4 linked regions of the Homo sapiens genome follow. The main gene of each other region encodes a partner of the protein of the gene in region 2 in a complex. Each region holds a gene or a part of one and is shown on either strand. Other genes may lie near its edges.

Region 1 (7,019 bases), on a different chromosome or scaffold from region 2:
TGAATGTCATTCTTGGGCCTTGTAAGAGGCACTCGCTTTGCTCCATTTCACTTTCTTTCCATTCTGCTTTTAGTTTGGTTTTGTTTTGGATTCTTCTACAGTTAAGTGTTCTTCTCTTCCATTCCATTATACTTCCTTGACAGAAATAATGAGTCTCTTCACAGGCTCATAAATGATCAAACTGATGTAACTTTGAAAAGTAACTACTTGGAGTCAGAAAAAGTGATGATTGGAGACTAAGAAAAGTAAAGATATTCAAAGGCAGTTTCTATCTCTGACAACTTTGTTCATTAAGAGTGCCTTTGTTTAGGCGCGGTGGCTCATGCCTGTAATCCCAGCACTTTGGCAGGCTGAGGCGGGCGGATCACGAGGTCAGGAGTTTGAGATCAGCCTGCCCAACATGGTGAAACCCTGTCTCTACTAAAAATAGAAAAATTAGCTGGGCGTGGTGGCGTGTGCCTATAATCCCAGCTACTCAGGAGGCTGAGGTAGGAGAATCACTTGAACCCGTGAGGCGAAGGTTGCAGTGAGCCAAGATCCTGCCACTGCACTCCAGCCAGGGCAACAGAGGACAGAGTGAGGCTCCGTTTCAAAAAAAAGAATGCCTTTGATCAGTGATTTCATTAAGTTGACTTTCGACCACTGAAATTTACTTAATGTCTATTTTTGCCTCTTCTGAGGCATATGTGCTTCTCTCCTTATCTCTTTGGCTATGATAAGCTAATTATTTATGTTTGCATAATATTTATGTTTGCATGTTAGTGACATATATTTTAAAATGTGATACACTCCTGTAATTTATGAGAGTATGTTCATTGCTGTGAGCTTTGAAGGTGCTCTAATCCTTCCTCATATTTGGCCTTAGAATGCACCTCGGATCCCCCAAGGTTTAGGCTTTCTTCATTTGTCTTTGAAACTATATCTTCTGTCTCTTGTCATATCTGCTTATTGCGTGTTTTTCATACCTTCCACCTCTCTAAAAGCCGTTACCTGAGCCCTCGTTATCACTTTTGGTTGAATGTGCTGCACTTAGCTGCATTTCTAAGTTTCTGATTCTTGCAAGTTTGTGGAAACAGAGGAGTCTTTAACCCACATCAGCCTTGATCTAAGTGTACCACTTTACTTAAAAGTTCGTGGGATCTGGAGCTCCTGGTCTAGCAAGCCATGAAAATGCCAATAAATGTTTGTAATAAAGCTTTTATTTAAACATCCATTTTGTTCGACCTTGAAGCTTTACTAATATGCTGAAGAACAAACAGCCGACGCCAGTGAATATTCGGGCTTCGATGCAGCAACAACAGCAGCTAGCCAGTGCCAGAAACAGAAGACTGGCCCAGCAGATGGAGAATAGACCCTCTGTCCAGGCAGCATTAAAACTTAAGCAGGTGAGAGAATGGGTCTTAATGCTCCAGAAGCAGCTGGTGATCTCTGTGAGGGAGTCCACTGAGGCTGTCAGGACGTGATGGATGATTGCAAAGTGGCTCAGGGCAAAAAGCTGAAACTTCTCTGGAAGAAAGAGAAGTTCAGAGAATTCCAATTTTGGCAGGTACCAATAAGTAACTTTTTACTGTCTTTCTCTTTTAGGGAGTTTGCCATCTATGTGGCCTGTTTCTGTTACCAATGAGTATTAATCTTTTGTTTTCTGATCCTTAACCCTTAACATAGATTAATGGCTTATTCCACAAAGAAACTTTATTTCAGCTTTAGATAATCTCACAGCATCCTTTACTCTCTGTTAAATGATTTACCCAACAGGGAAATAATTTTATTCTTTTTCCCATAGTGCAGGGAGTTTGCATGGCCTTAGTCAAAGGTTTTCTTTTTTTTTTTTTTTTTAGACGGAGTCTTGCTCTGTCGCCCAGGCTGGAGTGCAGTGGCACGATCTCGGCTCACTGCAAGCTCCGCCTCCCGGGTCCATACCATTCTCCTGCCTCAGCCTCCCGAACAGCTGGGACTAAAGGTGCCCGCCACCACACCCAGCTAATTTTTTTGTATATTTAATAGAGACAGGGTTTCACCATACTAGCCAGGATGGTCTCGATCTCCTGACCTCGTGATCCACCCGCCTCGGCCTCCCAAAGTGCTGGGATTACAGGCTTGAGCCACCGCGCCCAGCAGTCAAAGGTTTTCAATGCTAAAATATACAGAGTAGAGTGACCCTCATTTCCACAGCACCTAAAGTTTTACCAGTAAAGTGGAGCAAGAATACTGAGTAATTTGAGTTAGGGGTTCTCTTTTTCAAATTTACAGTGAGAGATAATCCTATTCAGACCTGAAATAAAACCTGCTCTTTATTATTCATAGAATTTATATGCAAGTCCGGACAGTGGCTGTGGAAGGATATGTCCAAGCTGTGGCTGGGCGTCTGGAGGGCAGTGCCATGCAACTGTAAGGGCTTTGGTAGCATTGCATGGCTATGCATAAATTCAGCAGTTAAATATAACACCCTTACACCCCCACCCTGAACCATTGGGCTCACTGACCAAAAATAAACAAGGGTGTCTGCTTCGGCTACCTTAAGCCTTGGAGTGACTGGATTCCTCCCTGACTCAGGAAAGCAGCAAAAGGCACCATTTTCCAAGAGTAAATGGAAGTTGCTGAAGATGAATCTCTGACAGATCATTCCAAAGGACCTTTCAACAAGAAGCTTTAAGTATAGGCTCTGCAGGAAGTAGTCCCTATCCAGAGTAGTACTATTAAATAGAATTTTTTTATGTTTTTGGTTTGGTTTGGTTTGGTTTGTTTTGAGACGGAGTCTTGCTCTGTCACCCAGGCTGTAGTGCAGTGGTGCAATCTCAACTCACTGCAGCCTCCGCCTCCCGGGTTCAAGCGATTCTCCTGTCTCAGCTACAGGCGCCCGCCACCACACCCGGCTAATTTTTGTATTTTTAGTAGAGACGGAGTTTTGTCATGTTGGCCAGACTGGTCTTGAACTCCTGACCTCAAGTGATCTGCCTGCCTCAGTATCCCAAAGTGTTCAGATTACAGGCATGAGCTACCGTGCCCAGCCAGAACTTTCTACAATGATGGAAATGTTCTGTATTTGCTCTCCGGTACAGTAGCCACTAGTCACATGTGGCTATTGAAAACTTTAAATGTGACTAGTGCAATTAAGGAGCTTAATTTTTTTTAATTTAATTTTAGGCCAGGCCTGTAATCCCAGCACTCTGGGAGGCCAAGGCAGGCGGATCACTTGAGGTCAGGAGTTTGAGACTAGCCTGGCCAATGTGGCAAAACCCCATCTCTACTAAAAAAAAAAAAAAGCCGGGCATGGTGGCGCATACCTGTAATCCCAGCTACTCAAGAGGCTAAGGAGAATCTCTTGAACCCAGGAAGTGGAGGTTGCGGTGAGTGGAGTTGGCACCACTGCATTCCAGCTTGGGTGACAGTGAGACTCTGTCTCAAGAAAATAAGTAAAATTTGCTTTTAATTTAGGCTGGGTATGGTGGCTCACACTTGTAATCCCAGCACTTTGGGAGGCCTGGGCAGGTGGATCACCTGAGGTCAGGAGTTCAAGACCAGCCTGGCCAACATGACAAGACCCCGTCTCCACCAAAAATAAGCCAGGCGTGATGACAGCTCCTGTAATCCCAGCTACTCGGGAGGCTGAGGCAGGAGAATTGTTTGAACCTGGGAGACGAAGGTTGCAGTGAGCCAAGATCGTGTCACTGCACTTCAGCCTGGGCAACAGAGCGAGACTGTATCTCAAAATAAAAATAATTGAAATAGCCACATGTAGCTATAGAGGCTGCCTTACACAGCACACCTCTAGAAGGGAAACTAAGTGGTATAGTTGACATCCTTAACTTCCCTGTTAATATTAAAGGCCGGTATTGGTGGCACTTAAGGATTGGAATGGGTAAAGAACTTCCCAGCACTGTACAGTTCTTTTAAAGCACAAAGCTTGGGAGAATTAATATATGCAGGATAACTGAACGCAAGAGACTTGTGGAATGCAGTTCTAACCTGATAATTGTGTGTTAATCGGGAGTAACAGGACAGGCCGTTACGGTTGGTTACACCTACTTATGCTAGATGCATAATGTTTGGAGCCTTCCCCACTGATGAGAAGCAATTTATGATCTTGTGCTAGAAAGTTAATAATGCTTCACAGCATCTTTTTGAGAGGTTGATTAGAAAACACACACATACACGTTGGTAGTCACTTGTGGGTGAAGCCTGAAGGGGCTATACAATTTATTTTCTTTCAGATTGACTGATGGCTTTATGGACAGCCAGGCTTACTAGGAGCTTGGTTGTGTTCAGGGCTATTGCTGTCCCTTTTTCCTTTGAAGGAATTTAATTCTCTGAGATGTAGTCTTAATGGTTTTCTTTTGAGAACAGATTCTTAAAAATACCCTATCTCTGTAGTGTGTCCTTGTTCTTATATATGGCCCTGAGTTTTGTGATCACCTGAATAATTCTAACATACGTTTGGCTGGCTGACTGTGGAGATACATTTGAGTTACATGTTTATTTTTAATTTAAGGTCATCATTGTTTTAAAGGAGCTGTTTGCAAGTGCAGGCATGGAATTAGGGATTTTTAAGAAATGTAAGGAAAGGAGATTTGACTTTCTTGTGTTTATTTACATCTTAAGGTAAAAAGTGGACCGTCTGGAAATAGATTCTCAGAGGAAAAATGGAGCACACGGGCCTTTTTGAGAAATCAATCTTGTTCTTAAGTCACAAGAACTCAAGTGAACTTGTAATTTAAGTTTTGCCCAGAGTGTGATGAACTTCCTATGGTGTTTGAGTAAGCCTTTGAAGACAGTGGTAGTCCATGGGCAGGTATGAATCAAGTCATATAATTGTCAACCTGTAGTTCAAAAGCAGTACAATCCAGGATTGAACTATAGAATGTTCTTACGAAAACTTAAGTTTCAACTGGCAGTGTATGACTTCTGTAGCCAAACTAGTGAGGTAATTTGTGGAGATGCCCATTTCATGGGACCACACTTGAGCTTCTTGGAGTTTCTGCTCTGGATCAAAATTCTGCTGCTTGTATAACATGTTCTGAGGCAAAGGCTTGCTTCTGGTTTGGGATCCTTTTGACACCCACAACAGGTTTATCTCCCTTCACACCAGCATCTCACTTGCTTCTTTTTCTCTGCACTTTGAGTTGCCAAATCCTGTTGGATTGCTTTTTTGATCTCAATCCCCTAACACCTTTTCTTCCAGAAGAGCTTAAAGCAGCGCCTGGGTAAGAGTAACATCCAGGCACGGTTAGGCCGACCCATAGGGGCCCTGGCCAGGGGAGCAATCGGAGGACGAGGCCTACCCATAATCCAGAGAGGCTTGCCCAGAGGAGGACTACGTGGGGGACGTGCCACCAGAACCCTACTTAGGGGCGGGATGTCACTCCGAGGTCAGTGCTGTGTACCCTGATAATTGTCGGGCCCTACTCCCTTCCCTTTTCTCTTGGGCTGCTTATGGACACGTTTGTTTAACATCTTTAAGCCTGAATTTGTATTAATATAATAACTTCTGAAATCACATATTTTTAATAGTGCTGCATGTCTTTTATCAATACCATTCCTTTTCTGATAATGTGCAATGGTGAGAGGCTATGACCTGCGTAACAACAGGTAATTCATGTCATCTCCATTCCATTTTAAAACACCCTGCTGTTGCTTGAATCAAAGCACATTCAAGTTCTAGAAACAAGTCAAACATAAGAAATTTATAGGTCTTTTGGCCTATATCTCTTTGTTCCTGGTGCTAGTAAAACACTGATACAGCTGGAAAAAGAGGACAAGTTGACCCACAGCACTTACCTATATATGTTCATTTGGGGCACTATTACTCTGTTCCCTGTATAGTTCTTGTTCCCTAGAAGAATCTGTTGAGATCAGGAACCATAGCATTTATTTTTAAATTTACCATAATGCTAGGCATCTATCTGATTATTCAGTAGATATTTATTAAATGTATGTACTTACTAATTGAATTAACTCCCAACTTCCAAAAATGGATTTGTGGTCAGACTTGTTGAATTGATTGAATAAAGAGTAGCTTAATCTGTTCACAGTATGCAGCTTGCCCCAGCCAACCTAAAAACTAACTGAATTACCTTCATTTAACCCTCACCGCCTTCCTTTGGTTAGAATCTACTTTGTGTCTCTTGGATTTACCTGCATATACATTGTATGCCTCCTCTCTAAGGTCAAAACCTGCTCCGAGGTGGACGAGCCGTAGCTCCCCGAATGGGCTTAAGAAGAGGTGGTGTTCGAGGTCGTGGAGGTCCTGGGAGAGGGGGCCTAGGGCGTGGAGCTATGGGTCGTGGCGGAATCGGTGGTAGAGGTTAGTCAGCTACCAACTTCAGAGAGTAGCTCCCCCTTACTTTCCTCCCTTAAAAACTCAGAGCCACCTTTCTGCACAGCTTCAAGTCATAGGCAGGCTTCTTTGTTTGTCTTGTTTTGTTATTTGAAACTGGCTTATTTTTCAAATTACCATGCTGGTAGTGCAAAAGTCTCATGATTTTTCCAAGAATCAATCAAGTGCATATTATAGAGCCAGATTATATGCCATCTTCCTCCAAGCTCTTGCAAATTTAAATTGTATAGTTGAAAATACCCCCCAAAATGGTCAGTTTAGGGTTTTGCCTTTCTCTGCCCCTGTCCCACCACCATCACCACCACATACCACCCTGTAGCTCCAAATCCTGGTTTGAGTCACATGAGAATATAGAAGAGAGAGAGAGATACAAAGATGAAGTAGAGTTAAGAGGGTGGTGAGACTTGGAGCTGGGCATTGGCTCTGAAACCAAATAAATTCAATGTCACATTTGGTGCCTGTGGAGAACCAGAGATGACTTTTTTTGCTTAAGGTAGAGAGCAAGATGGAATTATTATCAGTTAACTAACTGGCTCTTATTGATAATCTTGCCTTTGAAATTTATTGATGTTTGTCTTGTGACCTCATGACCCAGATTGGGAAAGAGTTTAATGATGTTGCTGCTGTTAATACTAAATCTCATGGGAGCCTTCTGGTTTAGAGCTTAGTGGAAAACTCCCAACAC
Region 2 (7,868 bases):
TGTGACCTTGGGCACGGTTCTTTACCTCGCTGAGGCTGTTCCCTCGTCTGTAAGATAGTGATGGTGATAGTGCTTCTGTCAGAGGGCTATAACGGAAGATTCTACAAACTATTTTATTATTTTATATTTTATTTTATTTTATTTATTTTTGAGACACAGTCTCACTCTGTCACCCAGGGTGGAGTGCAGTGGCATGATCTTGGCTCACTGTAGCCTCCGCCTCCCAGGTTCAAGCCATTCTCCTGCCTCAGCCTCCCGAGTAGCTGGGATTACAGGCGTGTGTCACCATGTCCAGCTAATTTTGTATTTTTAGTAGAGACGGGGTTTTATCATGTTGGCCAAGCTGGTCTCGAACTCCTGACCTCAGGTGATCCGCCTGCCTCGGCCTCCCAAAGTGCTGTGATTACAGGCATGAGCCACCACATCTGGCCCACAAACTCATTTATGAAAAGTGCTTTCTCCAGTGTCTGTCACAAAGGAAGCATGCAGGAAATGTTTTTGAATAAGGTTTTTGTTTTTGTAGAGATGCAGTCTTACTATGTCACCCAGGCAGGTCTCAAACTCCTGGGCTCAAGCAGTCCTCCCACCTCAGCCTTCCAAAGTGCTGGGATCATAGGCATGAGCTACTGTGCCCAGCCTTGAACAAGTTTTTTGCTCAAGGTGTTTGCCACTTTGCTAGGAACCTGAAACCACCTAGAGTCAGTGGGTGTTAATTAAGCCCTCACTGTGTGCCGGGAACTGTGGTAGGTAGGTGGTTGAGGGGCACATAAATGAACAAGAGCCTGTCCTTGCCATTGAGAAGTTTACAGTGATCACTTACCAGGTGGTATGAGGGAGAATGTGTCTGCTGAAGGAGTTAGCAGGAGCCTTGCTATTCAGTGTGGTCCCAGCTGGGTATGGTGGCTCACAACTGAAATCCTAGTACTTTGGGAGGCCAAGGCAAGAGGATCACTTGAGGTCAGTAGTTTAAGACCAGCCTGGGCAACATAGGGAGACCCCATCTCTACAAAACATTTTTTAAAAATTAGCAGGACGTGGTGTTTCCCATCTGTAGTCCCAGCTACTTGGAAGGCTGAGGTGGGAGGATCACTTGATCCCAGGAGTTTGAGGCTGCAGGGAGCCATGATTGTGCCATTGCACTCCAGCCTGGGCAACAGTGAGACCCTATCTCAAAAATAAAAAATAAAAATAATAAAAAACAAGACAAGCACAGTGGCTTACACCTGTAATCCCAGCACTATGAAGTTGAGGTATGTGGATCAATTGAGGCCAGGAGTTGGAGACCAGTCTCGGCAACATGGTGAAACCTCGTCTCTACTAAAAATAAAAAAAATTAGCCAGGCATGGTAACTCAAGCCTGTAATCCCAGCTACTCGGGAGGCTGAGGCACAAGAATCACTTGAACCCAGGAGGCGGAGGTTGCATTGAGCCGAGAACCTGCCACTGCACTCCAGCCTGGAAGACAGAGTGAGACCCTGTCTCAAAAAAAACAAAAAACAAAAAAAATCAAGTGTGGTCCCAACTGACAGTATTGGCATCCCCTGGGAGCTTGTTAAGAATGACAAATCTCGGCTGGGCGCAGTGGCTCACGCCTGTCATCCCAGCACTTTGGGAGGCTGAGGTGGGCAGATCACCTGAGGTCAGGAGTTCAAGACCAGCCTGACCAACATGGAGAAACCCTGTCTCTACTAAAAATACAAAATTAGCCAGGCATAGTGGCACATGCCTGTAATCCCAGCTACTCGGGAGGCTGAGGCAGGAGAATCGCTTGAAACCGGAAGGCAGAGGTTGCAGTGAGCCGAGATAGTGCCATTGCACTCCAGCCTGGGCAACAAGAGTGAAATTCCATCTCAAACAAAGAAACAAACAAGAATAACAAATCGCAGGCTTCCTGCAACCTACCAAATCAGAATCTGCACATTAACAAGAACTGCCAAGTGATTTGTATGCACATTAAAGTTTGAAAAGCTCTGAGCTGGAGGAAAGAGTCTAACCTCCTGGATGACCTGGAGCTGACCTTCTCTAGGCTGCACCCTCTCTATCTGTAAAACGAGGCAGTTGGTCTAAATCAGTGTTTTTCTTTTCTTTTTTTTTGAGACGGAGTTTTGCTCTTGTTGCCCAGGCTGGAGTGCAATGGCCTGATCTCGGCTCACAGCAACCTCTGACTCCCGGGTTCAAGCGATTCTCCTGCCTCAGCCTCCCGAGTAGCTAGGATTACAAGCATGTGCCACTACGCCCGGCTAATTTTGTATTTTTAGTAGAGAGAGGGTTTCTCCATGTTGGTCAGGCTAGTCTCGAACTCCTGACCTCAGGTGATCCGCCTGTCTTGGCCTCTCTAAGTGCTGGGATTATAGGCACAAGCCACCATGCCTGGCCAACAGATAACTATTAAAATTTAAGAAAATGTTATTCTCATCACCACCAAAGTCCTGTCTTATCCCATAATTTGAGGGATCTGGTGCTCTTCATGGGCCCTTCCACGAGGGCAATGGGACATTCCTGTCGCAGCATCTGGGGCCTCCTCCTGCCCACTCAAAGGCCAGCATGTGTGGGTGGGGCCAGGGGAGGTTGTTGGCTTGCTTGAGCCCCCTGTGTGACCTCTGCCTTCTCTCTCCGCAGTCCCCCTGGTGCGACACATGGAGTCTAGGATCATGATCCCCTTGAAGATCTCGCCTCTGCAGTGATGCTGCCTACACCTCCACCTCCTTCCCCTTCTCCCTCAGGCAACCCCGACAGACAGTGGCACTCCTGGTCCTGCTGTCTTGGTTTTGTCTTGGCTCTGGGAGGACTCTGAGGGGCAGTGCTCAGTTCAGACAAGGGGGAACTGAAGGCTGACAAGTTCTGAGGATTACAGCTCTGCCCAGGCCCTTTCTACTTTCCCTGCCTGCCTCCCTCCCCCTGCTAGAAGTAGTTTCTGATTTCCCTGAATGAAAGATAGTGATCTTTTAGGCCTTCATTTATCTTCTAAAATTCCTCATCTCAAGGCCACCAGTCCCCAGTTATCACCCTTGGAAATCCTCTGTTTAGCTTAGTTGCACAAAAGGTAGTATGTCCAGTGGCTAGAGGTGGGGTGGGAAGAGAGGAGGCCAGGCCAGGCCCTCAGGAATTCCCTGGTTTCCACTGGGCCACCCACTTGCTGGACAGTCTGAGCCAAGTCCCTCCTGCTGGAGAAAAGCCTGGAACTGCCAAAACAAAAAAACAAATACAAACAAACCTCGTCACCACGGTCAGGAGGAGGTTCAGACATTCTGCCCAGAGGGGCTGGGGAAAGGGATGGGAGCCAGGAAAGATTTAGGGGCAGGAGACAGACACGTAACAGGAACTCGGAAGGTAGAACTTAGAATTCAGAACTTGGGTTTCAATTGTAGAATTTGGAATCTGGAATACAGAATTGGGAAGAAGAACAGAGATGACAAAAGACCACTTGAAGAGAGGTTCCTAATACTAGACAGATGGAGAGTGGCTTGGCTGTTTCCCCCTGCATATTGGGGTTGAAAACTTAAATGTGTAGTTCCAGTCCTTCTATGCAGAGTCTCTCCTGCCCTCCCTCCTTCCTGCAGGCAAATATACAAGCTAGACCCTGTTCCCTCACCCTGTATCCTGTCTCCCCTAATTGACATTCTATCAGCCCAACCCTCATTCTGCAGGGCCACCTGGTGTGTGGAGGTGGCGGGAGGGGTCAGTGACTCTGGGGGTCTCCTCAGTGACCCCCATACCTCATCATGAACCCTTGGGTAGCTTGATTCTGCCTACCATCCAGGAAAACTTGTGCTGGAATTGCTGATGGAAACAATTAAATATTTACTATAAATCAGTGTCTTTTCTTCATCTGCAAGGAACTTTAGCAGGTGCCTGAGGCAGGGCACAGTAGAGCTGGTGGGCTTAGTCCCACATGGCAGATCTACCCTCCTGGAGGGTACTGTGTTCTTGAGCTATTCTCAACAGTCAGTACTGGTTGGGTGCAGTGGCTCACGCCTGTAATCCCAGCATTTTGGAAGTCCGAGGTGGGCAGATCACTTGAGTGAGGTCAGGAGTTCAAGACCAGCCTGGGCAACATGGTGAAACCCTGTCTCTACTAAAAATACAAAAATTAGCTGGGCATGGTGGTGCATGCCTGTAATCCCAGCTACTTAGGAGGCTGAGGCAGGAGAATCCTTTAAACCCTGGAGTCGGAGTTTGCAGTGAGCGGGGATTGCGCCACTGCACTTCAGCCTGGGTGAGAGAGCAAAACTCTGTCTCAAATAAAAATAAAAATAAAAAAGAGCCAGTATTTTCCTCCTTGCTCCTGGGAAGGAGAAGGAACTGGCCCCGTACAACCAGGGATTCAGGACACGTGTTACTAGCTCCAGATGAGGATTTACACGAAAAAATCCTGGGCCTTGTTTGTACAGTTCATGCCAGGGGTAGGAAATACCTGAAGCTTTCAAATACTGCGTTAGAGTTGTGACTCTGTCCTGGGCAAGTCAGGCCTAAAATGGAGAAACTGGTGATGCACTCCTCAAAAAGCCAAGTGTAAAATGAGGTTAATGCCCTCCCTGACTTGTTGCCTTCACTGGCGTGGCATATTATGGTAAAAATAATAATTAAGAAGTAAGGTTATGCAGGCAAATCCTCTAGCGCCGAAATCTTCCCCGCCGCGCTACCAGGTTCTTTCGTGTTATCTTGGACATAACACAACATTAATTCAACTACTCGGTGGAGCGCCCACTAGCTGCTGGACACTCTCTTAGGCCCTGGGCACAGTGAACGAGAAGCATGTGTCTTTGTTTTTACAGTCTCACCACGCCACCACCTCCCTCGGGGGCCTCCGCGCTGAGCTTCCGGCCTCTACGCCTCGCTTCCGGTCGGCCGCCCCTTCCTTACTTCCGGTTCTCTATGGTGCGCGGGCAAGCTTTGCTCCGCCTCCGGCAGTGGCTTACTCCCGGTGCCAGGTTCTTGGAGCTGTGAGGTGAGGAGGGGACAAGGGCAGTGGGGCTGGGAGATGGGGCGGGGCTGGGCGCTCCGGGACTGAGGTGCTGATCGCCCAAAGGGCGCCCCTGGGCTGGGGTCTGACCCGGCTTCTCCTCCCTCACTACCCGCGGTCCCCGGCCTCTCGGCGCTGCGCTGTTACCTCATCCGAAAAGTGTTCGCTGCAGCATCCTCAGGCTTCACGTTGGAGCCTCTTGATTGTGGTAATGTAGCCTGATGGGGGTGGGGGTGGTGGTGATGGTAACAGCTCACATATATCGTGCTCTTCGGTGTGCCAGGCACTCTACTGTGTTGCCAAAGTCAGGATTTCCCACACTTAAGCCTTTCAGGTCCGGTCTTTGTAGGCTTTGCCAGATCAACTTACCACCTCTACTACCGTTTATTAAAAATTTGTTTGTTTGTTTGTTTTAGTATTTATTGATAATTCTTGGGTGTTTCTCGCAGAGGGGATTTGGCAGGGTCATAGGACAATAGTGGAGGGAAGGTCAGCAGATAAACAAGTGAACAAAGGTCTCTGGTTTTCCTAGGCAGAGGACCCTGCAGCCTTCCGCAGTGTTTGTGTCCCTGGGTACTTGAGATTAGGGAGTGGTGATGACTCTTAAGGAGCATGCTGCCTTCAAGCTTCTGTTTAACAAAGCACATCTTGCCCCGCCCTTAATCCATTTAACCCTGAGTGGACACAGCACATGTTTCAGAGAGCACGGGGTTGGGGGTAAGGCTATAGACCAACAGCATCCCAAGGCAGAAGAATTTCTCTCAGTACAGAACAAAATGGAGTCTCCCTTGTCCACCTCTCTCCACACAGACACAGCAACAATCCGATTTCTCTATCTTTTCCCCACATTTCCCCCCTCTCTACTAGACAAAACCGCCATCGTCATCATGGCCCGTTCTCAATGAGCTGTTGGGTACACCTCCCAGACGGGGTGGCGGCCAGGCAGAGGGGCTCCTCACCTCCCAGAAGGGGCGGCCGGGCAGAGGCGCCCCCCACCTCCCGGACGGGGTGGCGGCCAGGCGGAGGCGCCCCCCTACCCCCGACCCGACGGGGCGGCTGGCCGGGCTGGGGCTGGCCCCCACCTCCCCCCCGGACGGGGCGGCTGGCCGGGCGGGGGCTGCCCCCCACCTCCCGGACGGGGCGGCTGCTGGGTGGAGGGGCTCCTCACCTCTCAGACGGGGCAGCCGGGCAGAGACGCTCCTCACCTCCCAGACGGGGTCGCAGCCGGGCAGAGGTGCTCCTCACATCCCAGACGGGGCGGCGGGGCAGAGGTGCTCCCCACATCTGAGATGATGGGCGGCCGGGCAGAGACACTCCTCACTTCCTAGACGGGATGGGGTCCGGGAAGAGGTGCTCCTCACTTCCCAGACTGGGCAGCCGGGCAGAGGGGCTCCTCACATCCCAGATGATGGGCAGCCGGGCAGAGACGCTCCTCACTTCCCAGACGGGGTGGCGGCCGGGCAGAGGCTGCAATCTTGGCACTTTGGGAGGCCAAGGCAGGCGGCTGGGAGGTGGAGGTTGTAGCGAGCCGAGATCACGCCACTGCACTCCAGCCTGGGCACCATTGAGCACTGAGTGAACGAGACTCCGTCTGCAATCCTGGCACCTCGGGAGGCCGAGGCTGGCCGATCACTCGCGGTCAGGAGCTGGAGACCAGCCTGGCCAACACAGCGAAACCCCGTCTCCACCAAAAAATACGAAAACCAGTCAGGCGTGGCGGCGCGCGCCTGCAATTGCAGGCACTCGGCAGGCTGAGGCAGGAGAATCAGGCAGAGAGGTTCCAGTGAGCCGAGATGGCCGCAGTACAGTCCAGCTTCGGCTCGGCATCAGAGGGAGACCGTGGAGAGAGGGGGAGGGGGGAGGGGGAGGGGTTTACTAAAAATTTTTAATCCAGTCCAAATTTTTTTTTTGCAACGGGATCTCTGTTGTCAAGACTGAGTGCAGTGGCGCGATCATAGCTCACTGCAGCCTGGAACTTCTGGGCTCAAGCCATCCTCCCACCCTAGCCTCCAGAGTAGCTTGGGACCACAGGTGTGCACCGCCATACTAGGCTAATTTTAAAATGTTTTCTAAAGATGGGGTCTCGCTCTGTTGCCCACTCTGGTCTTGAACGCCTGGGCTCAAGCGATTCTCTCACCTCTGCTTGCCTTGGTTTCCCAAAGTGTTGGGATTACAGGTGTGAGCCATGGTGTTGGGCCCAGTCACTTTTTTTGTTGTTGTTGAGACTGAATCTCGCTCTGTTGCCCAGGCTGGAGTGAAGTGGCTGCGATCTCGGCTCATTGCAACCTCTGCTCCCTGGGTTCAAGTGATTCTCCTACCTCAGCCTCCTGAGTAGCTGAGATTACAGGCGCCCGCCTCCACTCCCGGCTAATTTTTGTATTTGTGGTACTGACGGGGTTTCACCATGTTGGCCAGGCTGGTCTCAAACTCCTGACCTCAGGTGATCCACCCGCCTCAGCCTCCCAAAGTGCTGGGATTACAGGCCTGAGCCACTGCGCCCAGCCAAGTCACTTTTTAAACTCAAATTTACTTTGAGAGAAAACTTGAAATCTCTCCACCAGAAATGGAAAGCTGCTTTCACTTGTTTTATGTAGAAGGTAAAAATTAATATAGTTAATATAATGCAACTAGATCATTGTTAACAAACTCTGGCTAGATTTTGTTGTTTAAGGCTGTGGGATAGAGTTCTTTTGTTACAAAGGAACATTGGCATTCATAGATGTTAAAGACAAACTAGGGAACTGAGATGTTCTCCTTGAAGCAATCAGAAGTTTCAAAATAAGAATTGAAAAGGGATTAACTTTCTCCTTAGGTGTTCAGCATTATTTAAGATCACCTATGCATCATCTGAAGCCACAGTCCCAGGTCATCTTCATCACCTTCCCCAGTGGAATGCCTCCTGTGT
Region 3 (7,667 bases), on a different chromosome or scaffold from region 2:
AGGTAGGTGGTATTTCTGTCAATAATCTATCCACTATTTCAGTTTTGAATACGGTTTCAGATGACCTGCTTTTTAGGACACCCAGGGGCCTTGTTTTCTAGGAAGTTTGGGAACTGATAAGTATATCTAACTTAGGTAACCATATGACTCTAACATCTCTTGCCTTATTTCTTCTGTTTTACCTCAGAGCCACCCCAGATGCCCCTCCTGCTGATCTTCAGGATTTCTTGAGTCGGATCTTTCAAGTACCCCCAGGGCAGATGCCCAATGGGAACTTCTTTGCAGCTCCTCAGCCTGCCCCTGGAGCCGCTGCAGCCTCTAAGCCCAACAGCACAGTACCCAAGGGAGAAGCCAAACCTAAGCGGCGGAAGAAAGTGAGGAGGCCCTTCCAACGTTGATGCCCCTTCTCTTTCCTCAAATCAATGTCAGGGAGTCAAAAGGGCTGTAGCACAGGATGGAGTTTGATTTATCCCTCCTCCCCCAACACCTAGGAACTGAATCTTTTTCTTTTTATTTTTTGAGATGGAGTCTTGCTCTGTTGCCCAGCTGGAGTGCAGTGGTGTGATCTCAGCTTACTGCAACCTCTGTCTCCCGGGTTCAAGCAATTCTCCCATCTCAGCCTCCTGAGTAGCTGGGATTACAGGCACACACCACCACACCTGGCCCAGCTAATTCTTTTTTGTATTTTTAGTAGAGACGGGGTTTCACCATGTTGCCCAGGCTGGTCTCGAACTCCTGAGCTCAGGTGATCCACCCGTCTTGGCCTCCCAAAGTGCTGGATTACAGGCATAAGCCACTGTGCCCGGCCTGAATCTTGTCTTTTGACAATACCAAAGAAATAGGGGGTAGCTAGAGTAAAGAACCTAGGGCCTGGACCTGGGCTGGACAGTGTATCCCTTTAGGTGTGGGAACTGGGTATTTCCCTGGGGTCTGTATGCCTTTGTCTTGTCATTTGCTTTTAGGGCAGATGACACTTTTTCCCACCCTTTTAAAGCTACAAGTCTATCTTCTTTCTTGACCCATTTCAGGAGGGAGCCCTCTCCTTTATCCTGATATAATATTTAAAAGAGAACAAGAAAGCATGTAGCCCTAATGATAGGAGATTATCGCATAGAGTTCAGAGACTGGAAACTGAATTTTCCCTCGACTTTCACTTTGTGGGTAAATCACCCAATTTTAGGCTCTTTTCTGCAAGGATGGCCAAAATTAATCATTTTTAAAAAGTAGATTCATGCCCACTGCCCTTGGGTGAGGGGGAAGAATACGGGGGTTCCCAGAAGCCCCCATGTGATCCAAGGGTTTGTATTTTTTTTTTAAGTTTGTTCATATTTGTATGTACATGACTATTTAAAGCCAGGGGATTATCTTTCTATAAATGTATAACTGGCAACCTGTATCTTCCCTCTTTGTTGCCCATATAGCCGGAGCCCTTTTTCTCATTTGAGAATCTCTTCCCTACTAAGTGTTAAGCTTAGAGTGAAGGGCACCTCCTACTGGACCAAAGGAGAGGGGATTGGAGAATTGTTTTAAGTTTTATACATTAGGTCAGTATTCCATCTTCCCACCCCCAGCCTTATGAGGACAGCTCTCTACCCATCCTGATTAAACTGCAGCTATAGCTGAAAAAAATTATTGTAAGAAAAATACACAGCAAAACAGAGCTGGAAGGTGGTAAGTGTAAAAGATATGGAAAGATGTAATCACCAAAGAAGCTGCCCAAATGGCTTCCTGCTATGGAGGAGAGTGATTTGGCCCTTACCTCACCTGCCTTCCTGATTCAAAGAAACTTGCCACTAGCAGGACTGGGCCCAGGAGCCCCATTTGCCAATCTCTTCTCTTCTTGGGAGTCTGGGAAAGGTTGTATAGTTCTCAGGCTTTAAAGGTGTAGAAGACAGTATGGAGAATAAGAGAAGGATGTTTTATAGTCCTCTGTTTCAGTGCCTTCCCCATGCCCATGGAGCTGTCCCAAAACCCATCCCTCAGTATTTGTTGATGCCAAAGACACGAACCCCATGGAACTGGGGCAACTTCGGCAGCAGTACACTTAGCAATGAGGCTGTGTTGATGAGGAAGTGCGCAGCATCATACTTGGTATAGAAGCTGGCCAGGAGATAGCTGGGGAGAGAAAAAAATAGGGTGAGTGAGGTTGACCTTCTCTATCCATATTCTTTTTTTTTTTTAAGAGACAGTTCTCACCATGTTTCCCAGGTTGGAGTGCAGTGGCTATTCATAAGTGTGATACGTGCAGTACAACCTCAAACTCCTGGGCTCAAACAATCCTTCTGCCATAGCCTCCCAAGTAGCTGGGACTCCAGGCATGCACCACAGTGCCCTGCTCTTTCTCTTCTATTTTAAATGACCAGTTTTACTGTATATAGTTCTAGATTATCTAAAACTATTCCAGCTATATCAACAGCATTTACTTTGGGGTTCAGGAGATAGCACCCTTAACTGGAGACTGTAAGTCAGTATCTGTTAATTGTTAATGACATGGCAAATGACGGCTCAAGCTATTTCAGTCTGTATGACTGTTACAGTCCTCTTTGCTTCCACTCCCTACAGTGTTTTTGAAGATTAATATCAGTTCTGCCTTTATTTACTTCTTTTGGCAGTGTAAAATCATTTGGTTTTATTTGGCACTTATCTTTTCTCAGTCCCTTCATTTCCTTACTACCAAGGAGGCAGCAAGGAATGCTTGATTACAGTATTGACTGTAATCTACATTTTACTGCTCTCTGTAGGCTTAGAACTAGTATACCATAATATCTTCAAAGGGTTTTAGATGAGAAGTCTGCTTTTTAACAGCTTCCCTATGGGCCTTTCTACCTGGCTCTTGGAGCTCTTTCTAACCCAGCATATCTCATTTCCCCCATAGACTCACAGCACAATAGGAGAGATGCTGAGGAACTTGCGGGAAGAGGTAAACTGGAGCCCATAGTCCATTTGCTCCCAGTGTGTCAGTAGCCGAGCCTTTCCTTGGTCAGGAGTCTCAAAGGGTGTCCCTTTCACCGTATGAAGGAAGACATACGTAGCCTGGGAACAGGGAAGGTGGCAGTGTGAGGGGCAGAAAGTAGTTTTTCAGTCAAAGAATTATGTTAAGATCCCAAAAGGAACACATAAATCCCCAAACAATTGGTGATTTTATTTTGCTTTTGGTTGGGAAACCCTGGGGTGGGTACAAGGGCGTGGTTTAGTGCTCACCAGGTTATGGATGACGTTGGTCAGGGTCCAGACAACAGGAATGCTGAAGAAGGGGATGCTGAGTAGAACCATATGCAGCAATCCTACCAAGATGATGTAGGCCAGCCAGATGCCTCGGCTATTCATCACTCGGGTGTTGGGGTTTACTTCGCTGTGTGCCACCCCCACATTCATCCTAGCCGTAATGGGGGATCAGGCAGGAGTCCAGCTCAGTTTTTTCTCAACCCCTCTTGAGCTATCTCCCAGTTGTCTCTCAGATAGCCCCAATCCCCTGAACTCTATTGGGAATGAAGAACTTACCCATCACGCAGAAAATAAAAACTGAAGACTTGGGGAAAACTTTAAAAGACAAGAAGAGTCCTCACTACATTTCAGAGACATAGTCATTATTGCTCTGATCTTTACACGTCAACTGTAACATGAAGGTGTATGTGTAGGCTTGGGGCACTCACTTCAGGGAGCAAGGGAAATAGGAGTATCTGACTTTGCTGAAGAAGTTAATAACCATGAAGAGGTCACGTACACCCAGAATTCCAGGCGAAAGTCATGGAATCATCAAAGAACCACTAAGAAGGGATGACAGAGTAAAGCTCACTCTGGTCCCCACTTTGTTCTCTGGGGCTTGTCCACCCTCTCTCTCACCTCCGTGGCATGTAAACAGTCTGCATCCCCATTACTTCTCTCAAGCGTGGGGCACGACAACAACTTGCCCACGGCTTCTGGACTGGGTTAGGAAGGGACCTGAGCTCAATACCTCGAAAGGTGGAGCCTTGGCTCTGACTCCAGGGGCAGCAGTGATTATCTGAACTCGGATCTTTAAAATTGTGGTAGCTCTAAAGCTGATGATGTCTGGTTAGGAAGCGGCTCTTGCCCGCCCCAGCCCCACCGCCAGTTCCTTAAGCCCGCCCCATGCCCCTCCCAGCTTCCTCCTCATGTTCATCGGTTTTTTCAGGGCTCCCTTCAGCGCTCCCCTCTCAGTATTTAGGTCACCACTCCCTCGGCGCCCCTTTCGCCTCCCACCATTTTTCCTCAGCAACCCTTACAGTCTTTGCAGCTCCTACCTGCCAGCTCAGATCCCCGTCCGGCTATGGGCGCGGCGCCGGCTACCACACCTGAAGTCTCCAGGAAGTAACGCCTCTCCTTCTGCCCCTTTCCTATTGGAGGAACAGAATCAGCGCTGCCACCACCCATTGGTTGGTGGTCTGTAATGCAGAAGCACAGTTGGTTGCCATTTCTGTCGTTCGCAAGATACAGTGCCCGCCCCTCTCCCAGTTCCACCTTTTGAAAGAGGTGGGGCAAGCTGCCTAGAGAAGTGAGAGCGACGTCAGCTATTGACCAATGGGAAGAGCTGATGGTATGGCGTGGGAGCAAGAGTGACAACGATTGGTCAGCCTTGCATCTCTACGCCTAAGGCGGGAGCTCCTGGAGGCGGAGGCCGCGGGTGGGGGCCTAGTGGAGTGAGGGGTAACAAGATGGCGACCGAGACGGTGGAGCTCCATAAGCTAAAGGTACCGTGAATCGGGGAAGGGCTGAGTTGGACTTTTCTAGGAACTGAATTCTACAGGGTAGCTTGCGCCTTCTCCTACGTCTTCTCCGTGCAGCCTTTTCCACTTCGTTTCTCGGCTCCCGCCGTAGCTCTTTTGTGCCACCCTTCCACACTACGCCTTCCCTAATTTCCCATTTCTCCTCACGGCTTTACTGCTATATTTATTTGTTATTTCTGCTTCCTTCATCATTGTATCGTCCGTCACCCTTCCCCACTGGGTTGTGTAAGTGCCTTCTACCTGTTATACTCTTCGTTGCTTTTCAGGGCTGCATTACGTCAGTTGGTCCCTCCTTTTTGCCCCATGTCGGAGCCAGGATCCGTTTTTCTTCCCTGGGATGATGTTTCCAGTCTGTCGTCCGAAGCTGAGATTTCCCTGTTAGCAAATGGTGGCATTTTTGTGTATTTCTGTCTAAATAGGTACCAGACACTCAGAAAATACTTCCACTCCCCTTTTCTAGGTGGGATTACGCCCCAAGCCGAATTTTGAAACAGGGAGAGGCCTCTCAGAAGATCGGTCTCGCCTTAGAAGCCTGGGGTTGAGGAGGTCTTGAGAATAGTAGAAGTACAGACACCTCAGATTTAAAAGTTTTCGAGTTCTGTCACGCGGCTCTCGGCCCGCCAGCCTTCCTCACACACCATCTCCAACCACCAGAGAGAACTCACACCTGCAATATTTGGGAAAAACAATTCCAAGGTTAAGATTATCTCTGTTCCATTTCATATCTCGGGTGGGCCCTGCATCTCCTGGTGTTACCATTGGCTGACACTGAATCACAGAAGCTATTTTAAATTGTCTTATGAGACTCTTGGTAGTTTTTTCACACTTAGATATATAAAAAAGTTAAAAAAATATATTAAAAAGAAGAACATTTTAAAAAGTATTTTCTTTTAGGGTAAATTAAGATATCTTGAGTAATTGTCTGTTTGTGGTTTCACAAGTAGTTTTCCCATTAGATGTTTTGGACAAACCAGGCTGATATAGCTGAAACTGAAAAGTGATCCTTTAAAGCTCGAAAAGTTTTTTTTTGTTTTTGTTGCTGTTAAGAAAGCTTAAGGGTAGTAAGGGTAGGGAGAGGACCCTTCTTTAGTCACTTATTAGTTGACCCCAATTAGTCTTTCTGTGAAACTGATGTTTTTCTTACTCTTGGATTCTAAACTCTGTTAGTGGGTTTTTGTGTTATTCTGGAGTTATTGTTAACTTGATGATACTGAAATGCATAGACTATATCAGCGGTCTCTTGATCTTTATTGTGATGAGTTAAAAAAAATTGAGCAATCATCTCCACTTTGTTTATATATACTGTACTTATAGAAATTGTATACTTCTGGACTGTTATAAAATATAACACAGAAAAGGAATTTTTGAATGAGATAAAAAGGAACTATATATAGAAGAGCTAATATTTTCTTCCTATTTGTCCTATTTTTGAAATCCCTGGAGTAAGTCACCAGCTGCCCGATGACTTACTTGCATTTATAGATTGTGTTGGTTTATGGAGTTCCTCCTTCCATCAAATCTGTATTTGTCAGGTCTATATAAAATTTGTATTTGATTGGATAAGTAACTTTTACGTAAAGTCCTCTGACCTGATTTCAGTGTTACAGTCTAAGAGAACATTAGGCACTCCTGACAGCCTAAAAAGGACTTGCTCTTTAATCACATTTGCTTGTCTTTGCTTTTTCTCTAGAGCACTTCTTAACCTTTTGGAGGTCACAGATATCTTTGAAACTCTGATGAAAGGTATGGACCCTCTCCCCAGAAAAAGGCATGTACACATATTTTGCATGCAGTTTGAGGGGCTTCATAAAACTACCTTGTAGCCCCGAGGAGTCCATGGACCTCTGGTTAAGAACTCATGCCTTTAGCTGGGCGTGGTGGCTCACGTCTGTAATCCTAGCACTTTGGGAGGCCTAGGCGGGCGGATTGCTTGAGGCCAGGAGTTCGAGACCAGCCTGGGCAACATGGCGAAACCCCGCCTCTACCAAAAATGCAAAAATTAGCCAGGTGTGGTGGCAAGTGCCTGTAGTCCCAGCTATTGAGGAGGCTGTGAGGAGGCTGAGGCACAAGAATCGCTTGAGCCCGGGTTGGAGGTTGCAGTGAGCCGAGATGGTGTACTGCACTCCAGCCTGGGGGACAGTGAGACTCCGTCTCAAAAAGAAAAAAAGAACTCATGCCTTTGATTCTGATTTTTAGGACAATTAATGTTTGGTTCCACTGGTGATCTTGATGCAATGATCCTGACTTCTGGGTTGACTTGGGGTTTTATTGCCTTAAAAAAAAATCTTGGCTGGGTGCAGTGACCCACACCTGTAATCCCAACTCTTTGGGAGGCGGAGGCCAGGAGTTTGAGACCAGCTTAGGTAACATAGTGAGACCCTGTCTCTACAAAAAAAATTAAAAAATTAGCTGGGCATGGTGGCACACACCTGTAGTCCCAGCTCCTCAGGAGGCTGAAGTGGGAGGATTGCTTGAGCCTGGGAGGCCAAGGCTGTGGTCAGCTGTGTGATAATTGCTCCACTGCACTTCAGCCTGGGTGACAAAGGGAGACCTTGTCTCAAAAAAAAGAAAATAAAAAAATCTCTCCATTGTCATAAAGAGAATTTTGGGCTTTGGTATGGAACCTCAGGGGAAGGGAATACCTTTTGAAGCAGGAAGGAAACATAGTATGTATCTGAGTTGATATGTAATGTCATATCAACAGCAAATTTCTGAGGATTTTGTAGAAATGCAGTCATTCTTTTTTTTTTTTTTTTAAATTGAGATGGAGTCTCGCTCTGTCGCCCAGGTTGGAGTGCAGTGGCAAGATCTCGGCTCGCTGCAACCTCCGCCTTCCAGGTTCAAGCAATTCCCGTGCCTCAGCTTCCCGAGTAGCTGGGATTACAGGCACGTGCCACCATGCCTGGCTAATTTTTGTATTTT
Region 4 (7,380 bases), on a different chromosome or scaffold from region 2:
CTTTGGGAGCCCGAGGTGGGCAGATCGTTTTAGCTCAGGAGTTTGAGACCAGTCTGGGCTGCCTCTACAAAAAATACAAAAATTAGCCGGGTGTGGTGGTGAGTGCCTTTAGTCCCAGCTGTTTGGGAGGCTGAAGTGGGAGGAAAAAGAAAAAGAAAAAGAAAAAGAAAAAGAAAAAGAAAAAGAAAAAGAAAAAGAAAAAGAAAAGATCTTGTTTTTACCAAAGGAGCACTGTAGACAGGAAGGAGACAAGTAGATTGGTTTGGCATAAACAGCCTTAGCATAAAATGCAGAAGTTATCAAGTAGCTTATTCTAAAGAACTTTTCTTCATTTTAAATCTCAAAAAACCCTTTGCATTCATTCTTTAATTATTTTGTTATTTTGTCTTGTTTTGCTTTTATGTGCTTCCTTTTTGGTCCCATTATTTGTCTTCACTGAGATGGTAAGTTATAAGATTGCTTGACCTTACAGTAACCTAAAATCAACCTATCATTCCATGCATCAGACTGTCAACATTGAAACTACCCAATCCCTGGCCTCCACCACAGACCTCAGTCCCTGAATAGCACATTGGTATCCATGAGCTTGTGAGATCACCAGGGAAAAATCCCCCCAGCTGCTGAGATAATACCAGATGCTGATAGCAAAGAGCAGGCAAGCCAACAACAAGGATGCAGAAGATTTAATAGCTTTGCAATCTTATAGATCAAAAAGCCAATTAGCTCTGAGTAATTCCTAAAGGAGTCATCATACCATGTAAAAATAGTTCTGCAGTTTCTGGAAGAAGGGAAAACCAGGCCTCAAAGGGCATCATTGCACTCAGGTCATACCACAAGTGTGACATACTGATTACTATGCATACTGCACAGTTCAATGTTTGGAAGAAGAAATCACTGTGATACGTGGCAAGGTAAGCCACAGTACAGGAGAATACTGTAGCTCAGTGGTTCTCAAAAGGGGACTGTTTTGCCCTCCAGGAGACATTTAGCAATGTCTGGAAACGGTTGTAATAACTGGTGTGGGTGTGTGTGTGTGTGTGTGTGTGTGTGTGTGTATGGGGGCTGCTACTGACATCTAGTGAGTCAAGGCCAGAGATGTTGCTAAACATTCTACAATGCAGAGGACCCCTGCCCCCTGGCCCCCATCCCCCCTATCCCCACAAAAAATTATCTGACCCAGGTTGAAAGTCCTTGCTGTAGACTACACAGAGAAGTATACATAAGTAGCAAGATAGTGCTTCTTGTATCACAGAAGCCGTCTTGTAATAATGACTTCAAAGTTTTCCAGGAAGGATGATGGTACATGAAGATTCACTGTATCATTCTGTTTGCTTTGTATACATTTTAAATTGTCCATAATAAGGAAACATGAAAAGATTAGAGGGCACTTCTATATTTGATCCTCCTCAAAACGGCAGAAGGTTTTTACAAGCAGAAATCACTGAAGTTAATAGGTGGATATTTTCTAGTGGGTGGCTTTAGAATTTCAAAGTGAGACAGGACACTAGAAGACTAGATACAGCTGGTGAAAAACAATCATAAACAATGGAGCATTTTCCCAGAACCAGTTCTGAATACAGCACATAACTTAAATAGTTTTTCAATGCAAATGAACCTGGTTCATTTGACAAAACTTGCCATATTTAGAAGATACTAGCTCTAAAGTTCATATGTGGGGTAGGATTTCTTCATTTGGATTGTCTGTATTTTCTGCCAAACGTGTGTTTTTTTTTTTTTTAATTTTTTTATTATACTTTAAGTTATAGGGTACACGTGCACAACGTGCAGGTTTGTTACATATGTATACATGGGCCATGTTGGTGTGTTGCACCCATTAACTCGTCATTTACATTAGGTATATATCCTAATGCTATCGCCCCCCACCCCACAACAGACCCCGGTGTGTGATGTTCCCCTTCCTGTGTCCAAGTGTTCTCATTGTTCAATTCCCACCTATGAATGAGAACATGAGGTGTTTGGTTTTTTGTCCTTGTGATAGTTTGCTGAGAATGATGGTTTCCAGCTTCATCCATGTCCCTACAGAGGACATGAACTCATCATTTTTTATGGCTGCATAGTATTCCATGGTGTATATGTGCCACATTTTCTTTCTTTCTTTTTTTTTTTTTTTCTGTCAAGTCTGCTTTATTTAAGTCAATATTAGACCTGCTGTTCCTAAACAGAAATGCCCTGATGACAGAGGAGTGGGAGGGAAGCAGGCTCATGTGAGGGTGTGGGAAGGCCACTTGGCCCAAAATGTTTGCAAGAAATACACCAGGAAAAGCCTATTTTAATTCTCCTGCATTAGGAACTGCCCTGTGAGATTCCTGCAAAATAATCCTCCAGGCTCAGGACTATTCCTCTTCTCTTGTGCTAGACACATCTCTCTTCTGGAAAGTTTTCCTTCCTTTTTTTTTTTTTTTTTTCTGTTGACTTTTTTTTTTTTTTTTATTGATCATTCTTGGGTGTTTCTCGCAGAGGGGGATTTGGCAGGGTCATAGGACAATAGTGGAGGGAAGGTCAGCAGATAAACAAGTGAACAAAGATCTCTGGTTTTCCTAGGCAGAGGACCCTGCGGCCTTCTGCAGTGTTTGTGTCCCTGGGTACTTGAGACTAGGGAGTGGTAATGACTCTTAACGAGCCTGCCGCCTTCAAGCATCTGTTTAACAAAGCCCATCTTGCACCGCCCTTAATCCATTTAACCCTGAGTGGACACAGCACATGTTTCAGAGAGCGCAGGGTTGGGGGTAAGGTCATAGATCAACAGGATCCCAAGGCAGAAGAATTTTTCTTAGTACAGAACAAAATGAAAAGTCTCCCATGTCTACCTCTTTCTACACAGACACAGCAACCATCCGATTTCTCAATCTTTTCCCCACCTTTCCCCCTTTTCTATTCCACAAAACCGCCATTGTCATCATGGCCCGTTCTCAATGAGCTGTTGGGTACACCTCCCAGACCGGGTGGTGGCCGGGCAGAGGGGCTCCTCACTTCCCAGTAGCGGCGGCCGGGCAGAGGCGCCCGTCACCTCCCGGACGGGGCGGCCGGCCGGGCGGGGGGCCGACCCCCCCACCTCCCTCCCGGACGGGGCGGCCGGCCGGGCGGAGACGCTCTTCACCTCTCAGACGGGGCGGCTGCCGGGCGGAGGGTCTCCTCACTTCTCAGACGGGGCGGCCGGGCAGAGACGCTCTTCACCTCCCAGACGGGGTCGCGGCCGGGCAGAGGCGCTCCTCACATCCCAGACGGGGCGGCGGGGCAGAGGCACTCCCCACATCTCAGACGATGGGCGGCCAGGCAGAGACGCTCCTCACTTCATCCCAGACGATGGGCAGCCGGGCAGAGACGCTCCTCACTTCCTAGACAGGATGGCGGCCGGGCAGAGACGCTCCTCACTTTCCAGACTGGGCAGCCAGGCAGAGGGGCTCCTCACATCCCAGACGATGGGCGGCCAGGCAGAGAGGCTCCTCACTTCCCAGACGGGGTGGCGGCCGGGCAAAGGCTGCAATCTCGGCACTTTGGGAGGCCAAGGCAGGCGGCTGGGAGGTGGAGGTTGCAGCGAGCCGAGATCACGCCACTGCACCCCAGCCTGGGCACCATTGAGCACTGAGTGAACGAGACTCCGTCTGCAATCCCGGCACCTCGGGAGGCCGAGGCTGGCGGATCACTCGCGGTTAGGAGCTGGAGACCAGCCCGGCCAACACAGCGAAACCCCGTCTCCACCAAAAAAATACGAAAAACAGTCAGGCGTGGCGGCGCGCACCTGCAATCGCAGGCACTCGGCAGGCTGAGGCAGGAGAATCAGGCAGGGAGGTTGCAGTGAGCCGAGATGGCAGTACAGTCCAGCTTTGGCTCGGCATCAGAGGGAGACTGTGGAAAGAGAGGGAGAGGGAGACCGTGGGGAGAGGGAGACGGGAGAGGGAGACGGGAGAGGGAGAGGGAGAAGGAGAGGGACCCGATTATTTTCTTTTATCTCAGCAGTCAGCAGGGCGTAATGTAATTTATTTGCTTATATTTATGGCTTTCCCAAAGACTATTATTTCTCTATTCCCAGTGTCTAGCACATATTAGGTGCTTGAAAAATGCGTGTTTGTATTAGTGGTTAGGGGTAGATATTACGGAAGAAGATGAAGTCTACTTGTTGGCCTGTGGATGGCATTTCTCTGTTCTAATGGGAAGTAAGGCCGAAGACTTCGGAGGGCGCAACCCGTGTAGTAACCTCGCAAAGGGGCCCGCGAGTCTCCACGTCGTTGGCTGCCTTGCCTCGGGTTTCCGCTGGGTGGAGAGGAAAGTGGGGCGGGAAATCGAAAAACGAACTCTCAGCTCCCGGCATTCCTCGTGGGCGGTGCTCCCCTTTGACCCTTCGCTCGCGTGCTACACATCCGGGCTTCTGCTACTAGTGAGAGGAAGATGGCGGCCGCGGCTGTGGTGGTTCCCGCAGAGTGGATAAAGAACTGGGAGAAATCAGGGAGAGGCGAATTGTGAGTGTTCGGGCCGGAGGCAGGCGCACTGCCGGGCCGGGCCAGGGCGTCAGCTGCACTCTCACCTGTAGTGGGAGGTTGAGGGGGAAAGATGTACCCCCTCCCCCACCCGGGCGGCGGGCGTGGATGGTCGTCTAGGAGTTTCGAACTCGGGGAGAGGTGCTGTTTACCGCCGCGGACCTCCTTCCTTCCCTGGCCTCCCAGAAATCGCTACTGCCTGCGGTAGCTCGGCTTCCTTTAGCCTCTTAGTAGAACTCTTATTCCGCCCCTGCAGGTCTCCGCGCTCCCTCTTGGTCTCTTTTTGTGTCCCCCTCTTCGCTTGATCTCACTTGGCTCCTTTATCTTTATGGGGCTGAGCCGGGGCAATTCGGACTTTCCATCTCTCTCTGTGCCATTTCTTCACTCTGCACCCGTTGGACTCCGCAGTTTGGAGCTTGGCGCCTCCTCTGCCTGAAGTCCAAGGAGGGCGAACCGTCCCGGATTCCCCTCCCCTCCTCTTCGCCCGCTGCCGCGAAGCCCGGGGCGCCGCGAAGAACCCGGTTTGGCACCTCTCGCCCTCCCGGGGAGCGGTCTCTCGACTGTCCCGGCCTCGCGTAGCGCCGTGGGGAAGTGTGGCAGGGATTGCCGCTTTCCCTGAAGAACCACCGACATTTCTTTGCTCCGTCTTTTCACCTTAGAGCTATTTCGGGTTGGATTCAACTTTCGTCATTAAATGTTCCCTAAACCCCATTTTATCCTGGGACTGCAACTAATTCTGGCAGCTCTCCAAGCTTCTCCAGTACCTAGGATAACGCGTTTCCTTTAGTCGTGAAACTTTCCCCCGTAACACCGAAAACAGTAATTTGCCATACCCCTAGTCTTCTCGCCCCCACGTTAGAGCGCTCCCTCCTCCCCTTCCCCTGGAAGGAGTCGTTTAAGCAGCAAAGCAAACCTCAGATATAAGAACAAATATTAATAACATCTCATTTCCTTCTCTGGGTCGCTTTTAGATGCTAAAGCTCAACCCTGGATGAAATTAACCCTCGTTAGCCATTTTTGTCGTCCTTGCCCACCCCTCTCCATTTCTAGTAGCCAGTTTACCGTGGCTCATGCTAAAGATTCAAATCTTTGTAACTTCGTTACTTGGAACGAAACACGAGGAACGCGTTGCCGGATCCCGCGCTTGTAATAGTGCCAGCCTATGTGGCTTCCTCCCCCGCACCCCCCGCACTGCTGTATGAAGTCTTAACAGTGTGAGCTCTAGAATTCCCTAAATAAGCGGCTGTCTTAGCCACTTAAGTAGCTGAGTGACCTTGGGTAAGTTCCTTAACCACTTGGACTGTTTCCCCTTGAGTAAATTGGGAATAATAAGTACTCTACTCAAAGGATTGTTGTGAAGACTAAATAATGCCTGTAAAGCACTTGGCTTATAGTAAGTGCTCAAGTGATAGCTATTAAAAGTAATATTATTCCAACCTTTAGATATTTAAACTTCTCAGGACAGCTCATGCACTTAAAGTCTGTACCACTCAGGTTAGCAATTAATTGGTCTCTGACTTATTCATGTGTGTTTATTCTTGCACTGTAATGAATTGGGAGGCCTTTGAAATATAGGGACTATGTCTCATATTTCTTTTGGTTTAACACATGCCCCGCCCCCCCAGCCTATGCTTAGAATGCTTATTGGTTTATTAATTGTCAGAGAAGGCTATTTGATAAATCTTCGTTTTTAACTATAATGAACATTTTACAAATCCTCGTATGTGCTAGTTAACAAATAGCTGTCAAGTTTGATAGCTAGTTGACAAATAGCCATCAAGTTTGGGGAAGGCAAGATGGGAAGTTACCCAGCCAGACCATCATCTTCATCGATATTAGGGTAATCCCCCAAAACTGATAAAAGCAGTTCATTGTTTTGTTTACTTTCAAAGCCAGCTCATTTATTTAGGGGCTGTTATGTTTGTAGATTGCTCAGCTTCCTCCTTTCAGCTACTGTTTTTTGACAGTTTTACTTTTTTTTTTCCCCCTTGAGACGGAGTCTCGCTCTGTCGCCCAGGCTGGAGTGCAGTGGCGCGATCTCGGCTCACCGTAACCTCCGCCTCCCACGTTCAAGCGATTCTCCTGTCTCAGCCTCCTGAGTAGCTGGGACTACAGGCGCGTGCTACCACGCCCGGCTAATTTTTTGTATTTTTACTAGACACGGAGTTTCACCGTGTTATCCAGGATGGTCTCCATCTCCTGACCTGGTGATCCGCCCACCTCGGCCTCCCAACAGTTTTACTATTATTGCTGCCACCTTAGCATGAGTGGTATTAGGGCTATAAGGTGAAATTCTGCTTGGCTTCTGACTGGTAATGGTTTGAGAAAAAGTGATGTAGGAGATCGAAATACTTAGATAAAATGGAATTTTAGGTTCACATTATGTATATTTACATAATACATGCTATCTGTCATAGTTCTTATGTTTGAAGAGCTGCTTAAAAACTGTTATTAGAAGCCGAGCGTGGTGGCTCACGCCTGTAATCCCAGCAAATTGGGAGGCCGAGGCGGGTGGATCACCTGAGGTCAGGAGTTCCAGACAAGCCTGACCAACATGGAGAAACCCCATCTCTACTAAAAGTACAAAATTTGCCGAGCGTGGTGGCACATGCCTGTAATCCCAGCTACTCAGGAGGCTGAGGCGGGAGAATCGCTTGAATCTGGGAGGCGGAAGTTGCGGTGAGCGGAGATCGCGCTGTTGCACTCCAGCATGGGTAACAAGAGCGAAACTCTTTAAAAAAAAAAAAAAAACAAAAACCCAAACAAAAACAAACCAAAAACAACAGCAAAAAAACCTGTTATTAGAACTTACGTGTATGTAGTTATTGCATGACTTGTGGAATGTGGATTGAATTATAGTAGATCCAAATCAGTATAGTCAGTT

What was found.
Region 1: THOC5 (region 2) and CHTOP share a complex: the UniProt entries of both Homo sapiens proteins name them as parts of the transcription/export (TREX) complex.
Region 3: THOC5 (region 2) and SARNP share a complex: the UniProt entries of both Homo sapiens proteins name them as parts of the transcription/export (TREX) complex.
Region 4: THOC5 (region 2) and THOC2 share a complex: the UniProt entries of both Homo sapiens proteins name them as parts of the transcription/export (TREX) complex.

Annotation. Positions count from the first base shown.
Region 1 is NC_000001.11:153,637,064-153,644,082, forward strand, and holds part of CHTOP (chromatin target of PRMT1 protein), read left to right. Parts: intron 1-1,231; coding exon 1,232-1,385; intron 1,386-5,179; coding exon of another isoform or gene 5,180-5,182; coding exon 5,183-5,366; intron 5,367-6,163; coding exon 6,164-6,301; intron 6,302-7,019. UniProt on the Homo sapiens protein: Plays an important role in the ligand-dependent activation of estrogen receptor target genes. May play a role in the silencing of fetal globin genes.
Region 2 is NC_000022.11:29,550,751-29,558,618, reverse strand, and holds the start of THOC5 (THO complex subunit 5), read left to right. Parts: upstream 1-4,861; 5' UTR 4,862-4,948; intron 4,949-4,963; exon of another isoform or gene 4,964-5,171; intron 5,172-7,775; exon of another isoform or gene 7,776-7,868. Other genes in the region: NIPSNAP1 (protein NipSnap homolog 1), read left to right, coding at 2,620-2,684. UniProt on the Homo sapiens protein: Component of the THO subcomplex of the TREX complex which is thought to couple mRNA transcription, processing and nuclear export, and which specifically associates with spliced mRNA and not with unspliced pre-mRNA.
Region 3 is NC_000012.12:55,814,708-55,822,374, reverse strand, and holds the start of SARNP (SAP domain-containing ribonucleoprotein), read left to right. Parts: upstream 1-4,650; 5' UTR 4,651-4,673; coding exon 4,674-4,709; intron 4,710-7,667. Other genes in the region: DNAJC14 (dnaJ homolog subfamily C member 14), read left to right, coding at 1-2, 188-398; ORMDL2 (ORM1-like protein 2), read right to left, coding at 1,980-2,115, 2,882-3,033, 3,202-3,375. UniProt on the Homo sapiens protein: Binds both single-stranded and double-stranded DNA with higher affinity for the single-stranded form. Specifically binds to scaffold/matrix attachment region DNA. Also binds single-stranded RNA. Enhances RNA unwinding activity of DDX39A.
Region 4 is NC_000023.11:123,730,050-123,737,429, reverse strand, and holds the start of THOC2 (THO complex subunit 2), read left to right. Parts: upstream 1-4,377; 5' UTR 4,378-4,407; coding exon 4,408-4,478; intron 4,479-7,380. UniProt on the Homo sapiens protein: Component of the THO subcomplex of the TREX complex which is thought to couple mRNA transcription, processing and nuclear export, and which specifically associates with spliced mRNA and not with unspliced pre-mRNA.